Regions from separate parts of the Homo sapiens genome. Here all the other regions are reported to be linked to region 4. The links are microRNA targets in miRTarBase. Many come from high-throughput screens and were not tested one by one. Region 4 holds a microRNA gene; each other region holds the end of a gene's coding sequence.
What was found. Region 4 holds the annotated microRNA hsa-miR-6776-3p (CAACCACCACUGUCUCUCCCCAG, at 1,831-1,853, opposite strand). A microRNA usually pairs through its seed, bases 2 to 8, with sites in the 3' UTR of a target mRNA and lowers its output. Matches are read on the target gene's strand: a 7mer-m8 pairs with bases 2 to 8, a 7mer-A1 pairs with bases 2 to 7 and ends in A, and an 8mer does both.

Region 1 (4,000 bases), not on the chromosome of region 4:
GGGGGGGAAAATGAAAGAGCCTGGATCTCAACAATACCAGGCATCTTGTAGAACTGTGTGATTCCTCGGGGGAATAAAAGAAAAATGAACACTAGAAAATTCATTTATAGACATTCAGGCCAAATTTAGAAAACGTTACAACATTTCCTCTTGGGACAAAACAGTTTTTAACATTTATTTAAGCATTCCGTTTATAATATGAGTAGAAAAAGAGCGCGATTAACTTAGTAAGAAAAGATCTATGCTTTTTACAGCTTTCTGTTTTGATATAATACATTAATTTATCATGTTTTATAGTTTCAGCTGTGCCACAGTCCAAAGTTTCTGAAGCCATGATCGAGCCAAAATTTTATGCCCAGCAAACACAGAAATTAATAGTACACCTTGTTTATTTTTGGTTAAAATTATCCTAATTTCGGATTAAAAATAAGATTGTTAATATTTTTAATCAAAACCTTTCTCCGCCGCAATTCCAGCTTTACGAGATCAGAAAGTGGAGCAACAGCGCTCTCTAGTGGCCAAATGCCACCTCCAGTCCACTGAATTTAATTTTTATTCATCTCAAACCAATTCTAATCTCGTTCTTCAATTTGGGGCTTGGACTGCTGACACTAATAATGCTTCATTCCTGTGACTGTCAACAAGTCAAGAGCAGCAAGCAGGAGCTCCTGTATGCCTAGGATATTCTAATCAGTGCTCCCAACAGCTTCCAGTAGTGTCTTTTCCAAAAGCTTCCAGCCCTTCTTTTGCCAGACACCAAAAGTCCCCATGCTGTAACCGCCCAGCTGTGCCTTTTAAAACAATTATAGGACAGGCTAGATTTAACAAAACCTACAACTTTCTAAATATCAACTGCCAAGAGGCTTTTTATTTTCCAGAGGAACCAGACACTTTGGCAACCAAGAAATTACAGAAATCAAGTATTGTTATGTTTTTGTTTTTCTCTTACAGCTGTTACTTTTAGGATTAAATCATGAATATTTGCTACTTTAACACTGTAACTTTAATGCTTTGGGGCCCACTTAGGTGGCCGATTTTGGGGGGAATCGAAGCCAAATCAAAAGCTTTTTGCTGGATCTCTGAGTGGCTGTCTGGAAAGTCCCTTTGCGCTTCTGTTTGTTGGAATTTCTATGGACAATAAATGGGATTTTAAAAATATATATCAAAAGTCATTGAACTAAGCATTCCACTAGAATTTTTTTTAAAAGCAATGACTATTCAATTGGCTTAAGTGTTTCCTGTTAGGTTAATCTTTTTACTCATCTTCAAAACTGCTTTCCTCCAGTTTAGGTGTAACAATTGTATTTTTTTATAAGTGAATAGACATAAATTTCAACAACATTTTGCTTCAAAGTTTGGAGTGGAGGGCCAGAGATTCTTGTGAATAGGCATCTAACTTCATCTTTTCCCGCGAACCACACTTCTGGGAGACTCTCACCTGGGTAAATGACCTAAGATCACTAACCACCCTATCCCCAGATAACAGGCCAATTTTTTTGTTTGTTTGTTTCTAAAGAACCAGCTAAACCGTGGTCATAGTCAAAATATTGTAAAATGCCATCTCCTTAGGCTACTTCCATTACCTGGTTCATTTCAAAAATCAGAAATTCATTCACCTCTTCCTTCCTACCTCTTTCATGTTTACTTCCTAGGTGCTCACACCTCACCTGGGGGCTCCCATGCCCCTGCCTTCTTGGTCCAACGCAGTCTTGTTTATATTTTATTGTCTAGATTTTAAGACCCAGTTTTGTCTGCATTTTTCCTTTTCTCCCACAAACACAAACATCAAAATGAGATGGTTTCAAAGCAAAGCACTGGGCCTGTCGTAAACTCATTACCTCCAGACGTCTGGCCCGCTAGATGGCTTTATGACACCTCGGCTCTTCCTGTTTTCAAAGAGCCCTAGGTACCCAGCTGGCCACAGTGGCAGGGGTGCGCAGCACCTTCTGCCGGATCTGGGCCTTCCTTGGCTTTCCCTCCCAGCCCCCCTATGCTTTTTCTTCGCGTCCCCTCTTTCATTGGGATCCCCCAAGATCTCTGCCACCGCCCCCACCTTCCACCCAGCTCAGGCCACTTGGCAGTGCTGCCTCTTTGGCCTGCAAATGCTGTGCTCACCCAAACCCTCACTTACAATGACCTTCATTTTAGCCCCTGAATGCAGCCCTCAGAGGGCCAAGCTGGGGGCTAAACATACACAGAAGCTGGGTGGGGGGAAGGGGGCGGTGAAATGGAGGTGGCTGGGGAGGAGAGCCTTGACCATTTTGATCGCTAAGGTCACTTTGGGGCTTTGGTGGGGAGGAGCAGAAGCTCACAGCCTGACCAGCTGGGACCTCCCGGAGCCAGCTAGCCCCACCGAGCTGGGACAGTTGCTCCAGAGTGTAGAGTTGGCCTTTCCCTTGTTTGGAGAGGGGTTTGGCATCTGGGGCTTCAGGAGCCCAGGGAAGGTTAGGGTGCTGTGTACCCAAGCCCCAGCCTGAAAGTGCCTGGCTTCTGGGGCCTGCTGGCTCTTCTGGGCGCTTCTGCAAGGCTAACACTGGGCCCAAGCACAGAGTTCGTGGAGGACCTTGAACCAGGCTTGGGGAGGCACCAATGTCCCCCCACAGGGTCTGTGCTGCTGCATCTGCCTACACAAAGGGATGTGAGGCAGAGAAGGCAGAGACACATCAGAGAGATCTGTCAGGTGGAAGGGCCCTGAATTTTTAACAATGTCTCACTCCCAGGGGTAGAGGAGAAATATCCTGAGTGTGATATTTTGCAGAGAGGCAGAGAAAGCAGGCACACAATGTTTAGGGCCAGCGTCTGGGCTCCATTTGATCAGGTCAGCATTTATTAGTAGGAAGCAGTAACATTTACAACTGGTCCTCGGGCAGGAACCGGGAGGGCCACCACCCGCGGCCGCCCACGCGAGCCCAGCCTTCAGGGGAGAGAGCAGCGCGTCCAATGCACTGAGGACAAACCCCAACCCGCCCGAGGCCCTGGGCTCCTCTAAGCCTCACTGGAGATCTCCACCGAGGTCCCGCGTGCTCCCTGAGGAAAGGGGGCTTTCGCAACTGGTGGGCAACCCCGCCGGGCTTCACCGTGGGCTAGCAGCCGGGGTGTCCGCACTGTTGTCGCTCTGCCTTCATTCTTGGAATTGGGGCGCACTTGGCCCCTGTTTGGGCAGTGCTGGGGGTGAGGGGACTAAACTACAGCACTTTTCAGAAACATGGGGGACATTTACACAAGAGAGGGCTCCCCAAGCCAGCTTGCACTCACAAAATATAGCATTTCTTAAGGAACCAATGGAGCAGGAAAGAGAGGGAGTGGGATAGGGCGAAACCCCAAAGCCACTTGGTTTTTCCAACACGTAAACGAGCAAATACAGAGTCCCCCAAATACCTCAGAGACCAACCACACAGTCACTTCTATCTAAAAAGAAAAAAAAAAAGAAGAAGAAGTCCAAGTCGCTGGAGAGTTTCTGGAAATCAAGCACCAAACACCCACAAAGGAAAACAGCAACAACAACAAATCCGCTGCCCTTGAGCGCTCCCGCCAGCACCGCGCCGGGTCAGTCTCCTTTGGGGCATTTCTCCTTGCTCATCTTTTTCATTTTCATCCTACGGTTCTGAAACCAGATTTTGACCTGTCTCTCTGTTAGGTTGAGAATCCTGGCCACCTCGTAGCGCCGGTCCCGGGTGAGGTACATGTTGAAGAGGAATTCTTTCTCCAGCTCAAGCGTCTGGTATTTGGTGTAGGGACAGCGCTTTTTCCGGGTGGAGCGAGCGTGGATCCAGTTCGCGGCGGGGTTGTCTACAAAGAGGGAGGTTTGGAGACGGGGAGAGAGGAGAGGAGGGGAGGCAGGGAGAGACCACAGGGTGGGGAAGAGAGGTCGTTAAATTAATTTCACCAAGGATGGTCGCTTTTCACAACTTGTGGGGAATTATCATAAAAAGCCTTAATGCTCGCGCTCTGTTTACCGTACTAACTGAGCGCCCAGGGTAGGTGGTTATGGGAAGCTCTT
Region 2 (4,000 bases), not on the chromosome of region 4:
ACCTGATATACTATTCATTTTTATATCCTAAGCCCAATATAATGTGTGTACATAGCAAGAATTAGTTGATGCTTATTGATTACATGCATGCATTTATCTTGTTTATTGAGTCAATACAAGTTTACTGAACCCTGGAAATCTTCAATTCCTTCCCCTTTCCTAAGCCTAAAATCTATGACACTATTAAAATTGTAGACCAGTCCCCCTGCATTTCTCTTCAGTTGTCTGTTTTAATCTCTTCAGGTGCTGCCAGTGGCATGCCCAAACCCAAAGCTGGAAGAGGAATAAATTACAAGTGGTCAAGGTTGCATCCTTTTGAGCCCAGGACCTGCTTGTAAGCCGAGAGGGTTCTCTGGCCCTAATCTAGCCAAGCACCATGGAGAGAATCAGTGCCTTCTTCAGCTCTATCTGGGACACCATCTTGACCAAACACCAAGAAGGCATCTACAACACCATCTGCCTGGGAGTCCTCCTGGGCCTGCCACTCTTGGTGATCATCACACTCCTCTTCATCTGTTGCCATTGCTGCTGGAGCCCACCAGGCAAGAGGGGCCAGCAGCCAGAGAAGAACAAGAAGAAGAAGAAGAAGAAGAAGAAGAAGGATGAAGAAGACCTCTGGATCTCTGCTCAACCCAAGCTTCTCCAGATGGAGAAGAGACCATCACTGCCTGTTTAGTTAGGCAGGAAGCAGAGGTGTTTCCTTTCTGGGGCTAAGCCTCCTTCTGACCACACACAGACATTTCAGGAACCCCTGAAATAATGCACTATGTCCATGTCCACAGAGTAACTACTCAACCAAGGAACAAACCTCAGACTAAGTGTCCCAGTGGAGGGCAGTCCCAGGGACCACGTGGACAATTCTTGGATACTGTCTTGGCAGCTATGTGTCCAATAGCAATGCTCCTTACTGCAGACCCAGGCATGCCTCCCACCTGTCTCTGGCATACCCCACATGCAAAGCACAAAGAACATTTATCCATACATCTCAATATGGTTCCCAAGTGTGTGCACATGCACGTAACACACACACACACAAATTCAGGTAGCAGGTACGTGGGCAAGTATATTCTGCTCATCAAATGGTCATTGGCTATGTACTTTGTGCAGGGAAGTACATTATCTACAGTCACAAAAATGTCTCATGGGAAAGCCTTGCCAGATTCAGACACATATATACAATTTCCTAACCAGCAAGGCCCCCATACACCATCTATTCCATAAACCACTCAGGTTACAGATGCATGCTTTCCTATTTCTAACTCTACACATAAACTTTTACTGGAAGTACTCATAATTGGACATTCCAGCAACCTGCTACAGTCCCCACCCTTGTGTGTCTTGATACAGACACACCAAGTTTCTGTGCCTCTGACCCCTCACCTGTGCCAAGATGTTTAAAGTGTGATGGTTCAAAATTCATTGAAAGCTCTTTTCTTGTAACTCATGACAAAGTCCGTCCTCATTGCCACTGAGAGGTGTTTAATGTGATCCAAGACCTCTCTGTGAAACATTACCCCCGCAAACCACTCAGCAAAGTGCCTTTCTCCAAGCAAGAACAAAGAGCTCTTGGTGGTGACTGCTAGAAAATTATGGAAGCCCACTCATTTATGTCAGTGGACTGCAACTGTGTACCTGTGCAATGTTTACAGATGGAAAGGGTGAGGAGATGCTACACCTGAGCTAGGTATCTCCTATATAACCAAAGTTTCCAGCAGGGAAGGAACTAGACAATCATCAGTGCAGTCTCACAGAAGGCAACACTGGAAGTGATGTCATAAGGTTGTGATGTGTGCACGGTATGGCACAGGTGGGATGCAGAGGTAACAGAGTTTAAATGAAAGTAGGATGAAGCTATAAAGAGGTTTATTTATATTTATATTGAAGCTCAGGCAAGTGCCTTGCACACAGTAGGTACTTATAACTAACTGTGGTTACTGTTGGATATGTGATGTTGTTAAGGGTAAGCTTGTAATACCTCACCAGTTCTCCCCGAGTGATCTTCTCTTCTAAGTGAGCCCACTAATTGCTGCAATGGATGAAATTGGGTGTTTAATGCTGGAGAGCACATGTAGGTGACACATGTGCCTTGAGGTATGTGAGGACATGTAAATTAGATCCACAGTGAGCTGAGGAGGGCTTTCCCCGCCAGAGTGAGGTTGGGAAGCAGAGTTAATCCACTTATAGGATGAACTGCTTGGTATTTTTATTGTATTGTGACTGTATTACAAAGATGGACAATTCACTCCTTGGGAGCAAGTTATGCTCTAGAAGTTTATTTACAAATATGCTGGGCAGCTCTCTTGAAATATTTTCCCAAGGAAGCTATTCTACACAGTGGCAAAATTGCTATCTAATTAATAATGTAGCTAAACTATGATATTTATAGTAGCAAAAAACTAAATTCTATAAGATTGCATTAAAGGAAAGATATATTCTATTTGCTCACTTGGGCTGCTTGGTACTCACCTGCCCTCCAGGTGTACTTTAGGCCTGTGGAGGGTGGGCATTTAGTGGTGACCCTTGCACCAGGGTTTTCTAACAGATGACCCTGTGAATCATAATTTAAACCTGCATATATTTTATAGCCAGTCACATTTGCCCTCTCACCCTATATGGCCATAAACTGCCTAAGCACTCAGGCCTCCCACTCATCAACCCCTTTGACCAGAGAAAGAAGCACTCTGGTTCTCTATCCCCTTGTCACATAGAGAGTTTGTCATGGGGCCTCTGGCTGTGCCCTTCACATAACAGAATGACTTGCCATCTGCCTGCACCAAACCCAGGGATGTGGAAGACATCTCCCCACAACTGCCACTGCTCACCAGGACAAGCTGCCCTTCCTGTCTCCACCTCTCAGTCCCCCTAGAATGGATGGCTGGGGAGAGGTGGAGGCTGACAGCTGAGACGTAGTGTCAGATATGATCTAGGAGGGCGGATCACCGGGATCCGGGACCATACAAGTAACATGGTTTCCATGGCAACTGCTTGCTCCTTTGAATTAAGACAGCAGTCAGTTGTCATTGCCATGACAAGGCCTCTATCTCCAGGCACAATGTCCCTGCTGTCTCCTAATCCAATGGACTTGCTCTCACCCCAGGGATGAAACACCCAGAAACTCACTTCTCAGTCACTTCCACAGCCGATGACTCAGAAGAGCCAAACCCAGAATGGGGCCTCTCTTTTCCCCATCACAGACTCCCCTGACAACCTTTCCTGGCGTAACTAGAGGAGTCCCAGTGCAGGATAGGCCCTAAACGTTTTGTTAAATAAACAGGTGCATGAAAGGAGCCTAAGGCCATTGTTGATATCCACTCTCTTCTTTCCACTTCCTTCTCATCTTTTTCTCCATGTTTTATGCTTCTCTGATTCCCTCTTCTGCCTGCACCAGACCAGCCCCAGCCCTTTATTCCTCTCCATTTTCACTCCTTCCAGCCTCTGTCCCTGAACTGCCACTGGCAACCCATGGGACCTCAGGACCAGAGACTGCTTGACTCATCTGGGGAGGGTAAGTTCACGGGGGACAAAAAAATGATTCCTAAAGAAGAGGCTTCCTAGACCAGCACAGGCTCGAGAAAGACATCCCCTAGGCCTGGACTTCTGAGCAGCTTTAGCCAGGCTCCGGACGGCAGCCAGAGGAGGCCTTTCCCCATTGCTCCTTTCCCCATTGCTCAATGGATTCCATGTTTCTTTTTCTTGGGGGGAGCAGGGAGGGAGAAAGGTAGAAAAATGGCAGCCACCTTTCCAAGAAAAATATAAAGGGTCCAAGCTGTATAGTATTTGTCAGTATTTTTTTCTGTAAAATTCAAACACACACAAAAGAAAAATTTATTTAAATAAAATACTTTGAAAATGAAAAGTCTTGATGTAGTCAGATGGTTACTCTCTTAACATTAGGTATTACCCCCACTCAGACATCACTCAGAAATGATCAATGCAGGGACTCTTTCTGTGACACAAATGTCCCAGCCCTCCCTGGTCACCGCCTTCGCCATGGTAGAGT
Region 3 (4,000 bases), not on the chromosome of region 4:
TCATCACTTCTAGCAGCAAGAGCTTGAACATTCATGCTCCCTATGGTATCGAGATGGAAGCTGACAGGTGTTCCATTGACTCAACTCAATACACCTCTAGTGCCAGTGGGTTCCCTTGAGCTCCAGGACAGTGAGCTCCAGCACAGTACAAGGGCAAACAGGAACCAAATCTGAATTATTACGATGCTGGATTCTACTCAATGCCCAGTTTTGGAAACTCTAGAGCTTGCTTTAAAAATAATCATTGTAAGAAACATTTACAATGTGTCTAAAATAAAAATTACTCTCCATAACAAAGTTCCATGTATAACAACACAGATTCTGTGAAGTAGCGAGTGAGAGATTTTTTTCCCTCTTCCTCTTAAGAGAAATTGAGGGTGAAGTCAGTGCCTCAAAAGCTGGCTGGAGCAGTGTTAGGTACAATGAACTATTTCAGTGTAGAATGAATTACAAAACAGTAATATGAAGGAAGGTTTGATTGTAAGCACAGCAGCAGCAAATCCTCCAACATTTACCCCATTATCATTTGGTGAGAGGGGAACCTTAACTCTAACCCTTTTACTGTTGTTGCTCTCTACCATTTTGCTTTTTCATAAAAGTTCTACATCAAAACTGTTACTCCCTCTTCCACAACAGCACTGAAAACTGTATTTCCTTAGAGCTATACTGTCCCCAAAATTGGAATACAGACTTCATGAGAGAATATTTTATCTCTGCCTACCACAGCATGTGAAAAAAAAGGAATTTTTTAAAATTTAAATGTTAAAAATTTTCCAATTCTACCAATACCTACCAACTTACAAAACTCTAGAGAACTCAGAAATACACAAACACACATTCCATTAACCACCAGAGTGATGATGCTGTCGCGTCATAGAGCCTCTGGAAAACCCCACTGTATAACTGGTGAGAGAAACAGAGGGAAAAAGGCAAACAACTTGAGAAGAATTACTTAACAAGACATAGGGAAGAGTAATCACTAAATCCTCAATAACACAATTTCCAATTCTATTTAGAATTTGGTATTTGGGCCCAGTGTGGTGGCTCACAGCAGTAATCCTAACACTTTGGGAGGCCAAGGCAGGAAGATGTCTTGAGCCCAGGAGTTCGAGATCGGCCTGGGCAACACAGTGAGACCCCATCTCTACAAAAAATTTTTTTATAAAAAGTAGCCAGGCATGGTGGTGCACGCCTGTAGTCCCAGCTGCTCGGTAGGCTGAGGTGGGAGGATAGCTTGAGCCCAAGAGGTCAAGGCTGCAGTGAGCCATGATTGCGCCACTGCACTCCAGACTGGGTGACAGAGTGAGACCCTGTCTCAAAAAAAAAAAAAAAAAAAAAAGAATTTGGTATTCAATATATAAAGCTAAATTTTCCAAAGACAAAAAACTTAGAAAAAAAAGTTTCCTACAAATGTTAAGTCATAAGTCTCAGAAACTCAAAAGAAGTGACATTTACTTCCTGGCTGAGGTTGCCCAATGGCTTGTCAGAAAGAAACCGAGAGAGAGGCACATCAAGATGAGATGGGGCATTAACTCCATAGTCAGCTTCAGAATTCAGCACTGTCCCTGGAGCACTCATTCCCAAGTGCCACCTAACAACAATCTGAGGTGAAGTAAAATCTCAATTTGTATAGAAAATGAATATCCGTAGAAAGAGGAGGCCTTCTGGGAAAAAAATCAACCTTGCGGCCAGGCACGGTGGCTCACGCCTGCAATCCCAGTACTTTGGGAGGCTGAGACGGGCAGATCACGAGGTCAGGAGATTGAGACCATCCTGACTAACAAGGTGAAGCCCCGTCTCTACTAAAAATACAAAAAAAAAAAAAATTAGCCGGGTGCAGTGGCGGGCGCCTGTAGTCCCAGCTACTCAGGAGGCTGAGGCAGGAGAATGGTGTGAACCCAGGAGGCGGAGCTTGCAGTGAGCCGAGATCGTGCCACCGTACTCCAGCCTGGGCGACAGAGCGAGACTCCGTCTCAAAAAAAAAAAAAAAAAAAAAATCAACCTTGCAGGTACTAATATGTAAGTCCTCCATGAATGATCCAGCTATGCTGGTAAATAAGTGAGGGCAACATTGTATCCCAACACAGGAAGGGGTCAAATTCAAACTATGTGAACTATGTGATCATACTAACAGAAACACCGTTAAACATTTTATTCACAAGTGATTTGTGCAGTCCCAATAATAAATCTCACTGTTAGACACAGTCCTCACAATGTAGCAACTTAACACAGAGTTCAGAAGTGCAGTTAAAGAATATAAAGAGAGAAAGAATCAAGGCAAGAATAAGGAAGGAGAAGAAGGAGAGGACATGGAGGGAGGAAGAATGTGAGGAGGCAGGGGTGGGAGGCTGGGGCTCCCCAGCATTCCCGCCTCCCTCTGCTGGTCCGTGGTGAGGGAGGAGTGAGGGCCTCCTGTGGCTGACATTCTTCCAGGGAACTCTGCACAGTCCTGCTGATATCATCAGTTTCTTTTGCTGCTGCCTTGAAAAGTAAACAAAAAAGGGCTGCAACACTGCAACTCCATCAGGGGCATGGGAAGATGAGGGTGGGGATGGGGTGAAGGAACAGGAATCCAACAAATATTAAGAGGACAAACTTTGGTAGGAAAATGATAGACCAAGCAAAGTAAAAGGCAAACAACTTTAATGGTTATTTTGCTAAAGATAAAACTCTGGGTGGTAAAGGAATTAAAGGCAGAGTCTCAAAGAGATATTTGCACCCCCGTGTCTGTATTAGCACTACTCCCAATAGTCAAGAGGAAGCAAGCCAAGTGTTCACTGATGGAGGAACAGAGTGTGGTACGCACATGTAACGGAACATTCCATTATATGTATAATACAGGAAGGAAATCCTGTCACCTGACACAACATGGATGAACCTTGAGGACATTATGCTAAGTGAAATAAGCCAGTCACAAAAAGACAAGTCACTGTATGATTCCACTTATATGAGATACTGAGAATAGTCAAAACCAGAGAGACAGAAAGCAGAATGGTGGCTGCGGGGGCTGGGAGGAGTGGGAATTACTGTTTAATGGGTACAGTTTCCATTTTACAAGCTGAGAAGCCTATGGAGATGGACGGCGGTGACGGCCACACAGCATTATGAATGTATTAACAGTTAACGTTACTGAACTGTGCACTTAAAAATGGTGAAGACAGTATGTTTTATGAGTATTTTACGACAATTTAAAAATTAAAAGAAAAAAAACCAGAACACACTAAGGGTTATAGGCACAAATTCTCCTTATGCCCACCACCATCTCAGCTGGTAGTATGACGGGTGTAGACACCATTAGAGGCAATGGTGAATCTATGGGGAACCACCCAGGAAAGTCACCATCCAAATGTCCACATCCCTGCTTGGCAATTAAAACGAAGACACTTTTCTTCAGCACCTGGTGAAGATGTTTAGTTTCTAGTGCTTTCCAAGATCCACCTCAGGAGAAGTCAATTTGTCCACAGGAAGCGTAGTTTCCAAAGCTGTCTACGGTGAACCTCTGAGAGATGTGAATTGAATTCAGCTTTAGGGAGCCAAAGTAGAAGTTCTCAAACAACTGAAAAGGAAGAATAAAAACCCAGAATGAATATTTAAAGTATAGATGAAAATATTAAACATCAGATTATCTTGTAAAAACACCAAACCACAACAATCCCAACAAATCTCTCATGCTTTTTCTTTTCAGTGTTTACTCTGAATAATGATCCAGGAGAGGAGGGATGGGGGTGGGAGTGAGAAAAGAACAGCCAGCTCTTCTCTCTGATTAATTCTAAAGTCTCCCCTGACAAATGCACCAGAGAAAGAGGTTCTGAAAAGTCAAATCCGAAATTCATCTACTGACCAGATATGACCAAGAACTTATAGCAAACGCCCCATGGCCACACCCTGACTCACAGAGTCTGACCAGGCTGCTTCTGACTTCCAGTGACTGACCATGCAGGGATCTCGGCTTTGTTGCACCAGGGTTAAATTTGACGTAACATATATCTAATCAACGCCA
Region 4 (4,356 bases):
AGTTGGGGGGCTGCTGCCACGCCTTGCTGACCAAATCCACTCCCCACAGGAGGCCACACTGCTTGTGGCCACCCCGGGGAGCCCGGGGCCTGCTCCTCAGCCCCCCCCCGCCGCAGGATGGGAAGCGTGGGGAGGGAATGAAGCCGCTTCTTAGGGACTGGTGGGAAAACGCCAAGATACTTTGTGTGAAGCAGAAACACCAAGGTCTTCACTCGCGGAATGCGAGGATGCTGGGGAAGATAAGCGGGGCGGGCCGGGCGCGATGGCTCACGCCTGGAATCCCAGCACTCTGAGAGGCCGAGGCGGGCGGATCGCAAGGTTAAGAGTTCGAGACCAGCCTGGTCAACGTGGTGAAACCCCATCTCTACTACAAACACAAAAATGAGCCGGGCGAGGTGGCGGACACCTGTAATCCCAGCTACTGGGGAGGCTGAGGCAGGAGAATCGCTGAACCCGGGAGGCGGAGGCTGCAGTGAGCCGGGATGGCGCCGCCGCACTCCAGCCCGGGTGACAGGGCGAGACTCCGACTCACAAAAAACCCCCAACCGGGAGACACTCGAGTGGGGCGGAGGCCTCACCTGAGAGGAATGAAGAGGATGCCGTTAATGACGTTCAGCTGCTCCAAGACGCTGGCCATGCTGGGGGCCGTGAACTGCGGGGCGGGGAAACCAGCGGTGAGCGGGGCTCCCGCGCTCGCCGGGCCGGAGGGGCCGCTCCGCCCCGGACTCACCTTGAGGGGCGGGATGTTGGCGCTGGAGCCGTTGCGGTAGATCTCGTTCATGGTGCGCTGCAGGGCCACGGCCTGCTGGGTCAGGCACTTGAGGTACTCGGAGCTTTCCTTGGTCTTCTCATGGTCCTCGCCCAGCTGCGGGGAGGCGGGAAGGGATCAGGCCCCCCCGTGCCCCCGCGGCCCCGCCCCCGCCCCGCCACGCCCCCGCCCCGCCCCCGCCCCCGCCACGCCCCCGCCGCGCACCTGCGTCTTGTAGATGGTGTAACCCTCCTTCTCGTGCTGCAGGGCCGACCGGAACTCAGCTTTGCTCTCGTAGACTCGGGCGACAAGGTGGTGGCTGCCGGGAGGCGCGGCGCGGGGCGAGGGAAGGGCATAAGTGGGCTGGGTGTGGGGGCCTGACTCGGGGGCCCGGGGTCTCCCGTAGATCCCTCCCTGGAAGCCACCGAGGGGAACAGCAAGTCCAGGGCTCAGGGAAGAGGGGGAGGTCGAGAGAAATTTTCTCGGGTGGAGGAAGACAGGAGCACTGGGTCTCTTCCCCGCCCCCGCCGGCTGCCCCGCAGGCCTCCGCCGGCCTTGGCGTTTGGACGGGCGGCCCCTCACCTGAGGGCCACCTTGAGGGCCTTGGGCCCGTGGTACTTGGTGCTGACGGCCAGCGCGTTCTCCAGGAAGCGCAGCGACAGGTCGTACTCCATCACCCCGTGCAGCACCAGCCCGATGTTGTTCTGGGGGCAGGCGGTGGGGGGCCCTGGTCAGCTCCCGGTCCCCTGGGATGGAGCTGGGTCCCTGCCGCCCCCCCGCCCCAGCACTCACGTCCAGCAGCGCCATCTCGGGGTGGTCTTCCCCGAACACCAGCAGCATGAGGTAGCGGGCGCGGTACAGCAGGCTCAGGGCGGTGGACAGCTGGCTGCTGGCGAAGCAGTACAGGGCCAGGTGCATCTGCGGGCGGGGCGGAGACAGGTCAGGGTGGCCGCGGACCCAGCCCCTCGCATCCCCCGGCGCGGGCGGCACTCGCGACTCACGTATTCCTGGATGGTGTTGGGGTGCTCGGTGCCCATCACCCGCTCGCTCATCAGCACCGCCTTCTGCTGGTTACTCAGGGCCTGGGGAGAGACAGTGGTGGTTGCCGCGGCGTGGGAACCCCCACTGCACCCAGAGCCCGCCTGGCCCCGGCCCAGCAGCCCACGGTGCCGCTCTGCAGGCTCCTGTCCCCTCCGGCTGCGCCCAGCACAGTGCAGCAGGGGGGAGGGGGATCAGCAGCAGCTGCTGCCACACCTTGAAGGGCAGGTCACGCTCCACAGAGAGCTCCACACACCCATGTCTTACACCCAACAAAATCTCCACAAACACCCAAATACAAACCTAAAACTACTAAAAATGTTACAAAAAAAAAAAAAAAGCCTGAGCAGGGGTGGGTCCCTTGAGGTCAGGAGTTTGAGACCATCCTGGCCAACATGATGAAACCCCATCTCTACTAAAAATACAAAAATTAGCTGGGTGTGCTGGCTCACGCCTGTAATCCCAGCTACTCGGGAGGCTGAGGTGGGAGAATCGCTTGAGCCCAGGAGGTTGAGGCTGCAGGGAGTCGATATCACGCCACTACACTCCAGCCTGGGTGACAAAGCAAGACCCTGTCTCAGAAACAAACAAACAAACAAACAACCCACCCATTTATAAACAGAAGAAAAAACAGTCCCTTTGCAGGGAGTAGGGATCCTAAGACATGCTAACCCTGAAACAGCCCTGGCCAGGCAGGGCACCCAGAACCCCACCACAGCCTCCACCAGCCCCGGCCAGGCAGGGCACCCAGAACCCCACAGCCTGCACTGGGCACAGAGGACGTGGGAGCTCGGTGGCATGCTTCCTGCCCACTCACGGAGTCTCAGGAGGCGTCCTTGCTGACGCCCTGTGGGGGGGTCCCCTGCCATCGCCTCCCAGAACTGACCTCACCGCAGCACAGGGTGCTCCTGAGCTCTCCCGCTCGGGACACAGTTACAGAGGGGTGGAGCCAGGGGTGGCCTGGGCAGAACCAGCGACTTCCTGGGGTCTCCCTGGACTCCACCCACTCCTCCGTCAGGGGCCCCCTCACTCCCCATCCCCCAACACGAGGCCAGGCCTTTGCTGCCACAGCCCAGAGGGTACCTCTGCGTAGTCGCCCATGATGTAGTGGAGGCGGGCGAGGAGGCGCAGGCAGGCGCAGGTCTCCACGTGCATGGCTCCGTAGACGTTGTTAAACAGGTTCAGGGCCTCATTGATGAGCTCACAGCCCTCCTTCAGGAAGCCTGCAGGGCACCCCCAGGGGTGGCAAGGTCAGGACGGGCCATGGGGAACCCCCACCTCCACCCAGCCCCACCTGGCCACACACCCTGCTGCACTTTGGCCTGCCCGCTCTGGAAGAAATGGAAGGCATCCGAGGCCTTGGGGTTGACGTGCTTGACCACGGGGAAGATGTTGAGCACGTCCTCCTCGGTGAACGCGGGCTTGTGGCGACTGTCGAAGCTGTACTCCTTCAGCAGGACCTGGGGGGCAGCCCCCCCACCACAGGAAGCCTCAGGCCCAGGTTCAGCGGGTTGGCACCTCCCAACCCACCAACGCTTGCGCACAGACGGCTACCGTGAAAAAGCCACTTCCCCTGTGGCCCTGGCCAGGAGTGGGAGCCTGCAGCAGGGACGCAGCGGGGACACAGCGGGGACACAGCGGGGATGCTGTGAGCCATGCCCACCTGGATCCCTGTTTTCAGCGAGATCTCCCGCAGGAGCGTTATCTTCTGCAGGCCGTAGGTCTCCACAGCCTGGTCCACGGTCTCACTGAGGAGGGAGCAGGGGGCCTGAGCAGCCCAAGCACCGCCGGGCCCCCCCAACACCGCCCCACCCAGCTCCCCAACGCTGTCCAGCCCGGGCCCCCAACACTGCCCCACCCGGCCCCCGGGAGCCTCCCGGCTGCCCTCACCCTCCAGCACCCAGTGATCTCCACAGCTGCTCCCTCTTCTCTCTGACTCCCTGGCCTATGACCACAGGCCTTAGACGCCATCTGGGAGCAGGTGGTGGCCGCCTCATCTGCCCAATCCCACCCACCCCACCGCCCCTGCCCCGCACGCACCACTCGAGGTCGAAGTCAAAGTAGTTCTTGGCCTCCTGGCAGATGTTCTTCCAGAGCTCCTGGGGGGTCATGACAGCCCAGGCTGTGTTATCTGCAGCCCCCGGGGGCCGGTTTTTCCTCCTCTTATTCCGCTTCTTGGAGACCAGCTCGTCGGCGGGCAGGTGGGCCACGGGGTTTGGGTAGGAGCTCAGGAAGCAGTTCAGGAAGTGGCTGATGGCGGCTGAGAGGCCGGAGAGCTCGACTCCCTGCGAGGCAGGTTGGATCCGAGTCATGAGGGCCCTCAGCCCCACCTCAGGCTCTTTCCCGACGCCCCACACCACCCTGGGAGGCCATGGCCAGCCGCAGAGCGGACGGGTGGCACCTGTAAGTACGTCTTGAAGATGTGCTTGGCCGAGCGGGTGATGAGTTCTCCAATGCCGATTTTCTGGAAGGATTCAGAAGGGAGGTCTTGGTCAGGCCCCCGGCCTCCATCCCAGTCCCACAGCTCCCGTTCCGCCCCACCCCGGGCAGCACTCACAAAGACGTGGTCC

Region 1: miRTarBase lists HOXD9 as a target of hsa-miR-6776-3p. The part of its 3' UTR that is shown has no 7-base or 8-base seed match.
Region 2: miRTarBase lists KIAA0040 as a target of hsa-miR-6776-3p. Seed matches in the 3' UTR shown: 7mer-A1 at 1,928-1,934.
Region 3: the mRNA of ASCC1 is a reported target of hsa-miR-6776-3p. Seed matches in the 3' UTR shown: 7mer-m8 at 3,321-3,327.

Annotation. Positions count from the first base shown.
Region 1 is chr2:176,123,723-176,127,722 of GRCh38, reverse strand. It overlaps HOXD9 (homeobox D9), which reads right to left. Exons shown (of 2, transcript NM_014213.4): 2 at 2,786-3,789. The coding sequence ends at 3,548. Among named protein-coding and RNA genes, the nearest start is that of HOXD9, 3.0 kb to the right of the region's middle.
Region 2 is chr1:175,157,390-175,161,389 of GRCh38, reverse strand. It overlaps KIAA0040, which reads left to right. Exons shown (of 4, transcript NM_014656.3): 4 at 244-4,000. The coding sequence starts at 377. The coding sequence ends at 676. Among named protein-coding and RNA genes, the nearest start is that of KIAA0040, 33 kb to the left of the region's middle.
Region 3 is chr10:72,093,895-72,097,894 of GRCh38, forward strand. It overlaps ASCC1 (activating signal cointegrator 1 complex subunit 1), which reads right to left. Exons shown (of 10, transcript NM_001198800.3): 10 at 2,138-3,556. The coding sequence ends at 3,440. Among named protein-coding and RNA genes, the nearest start is that of SPOCK2, 7.3 kb to the left of the region's middle.
Region 4 is chr17:2,691,031-2,695,386 of GRCh38, forward strand. MIR6776 (microRNA 6776) reads right to left here and starts at 1,889; the gene lies at 1,831-1,889. CLUH (CLUH binding protein of NUMT mRNA) reads right to left here. Exons shown (of 26, transcript NM_001366661.1): 14 at 4,344-4,356; 15 at 4,188-4,250; 16 at 3,827-4,071; 17 at 3,450-3,534; 18 at 3,093-3,246; 19 at 2,870-3,009; 20 at 1,750-1,830; 21 at 1,541-1,666; 22 at 1,331-1,452; 23 at 974-1,067; 24 at 731-865; 25 at 579-652. RefSeq lists enhancers at 180-688, 689-1,196.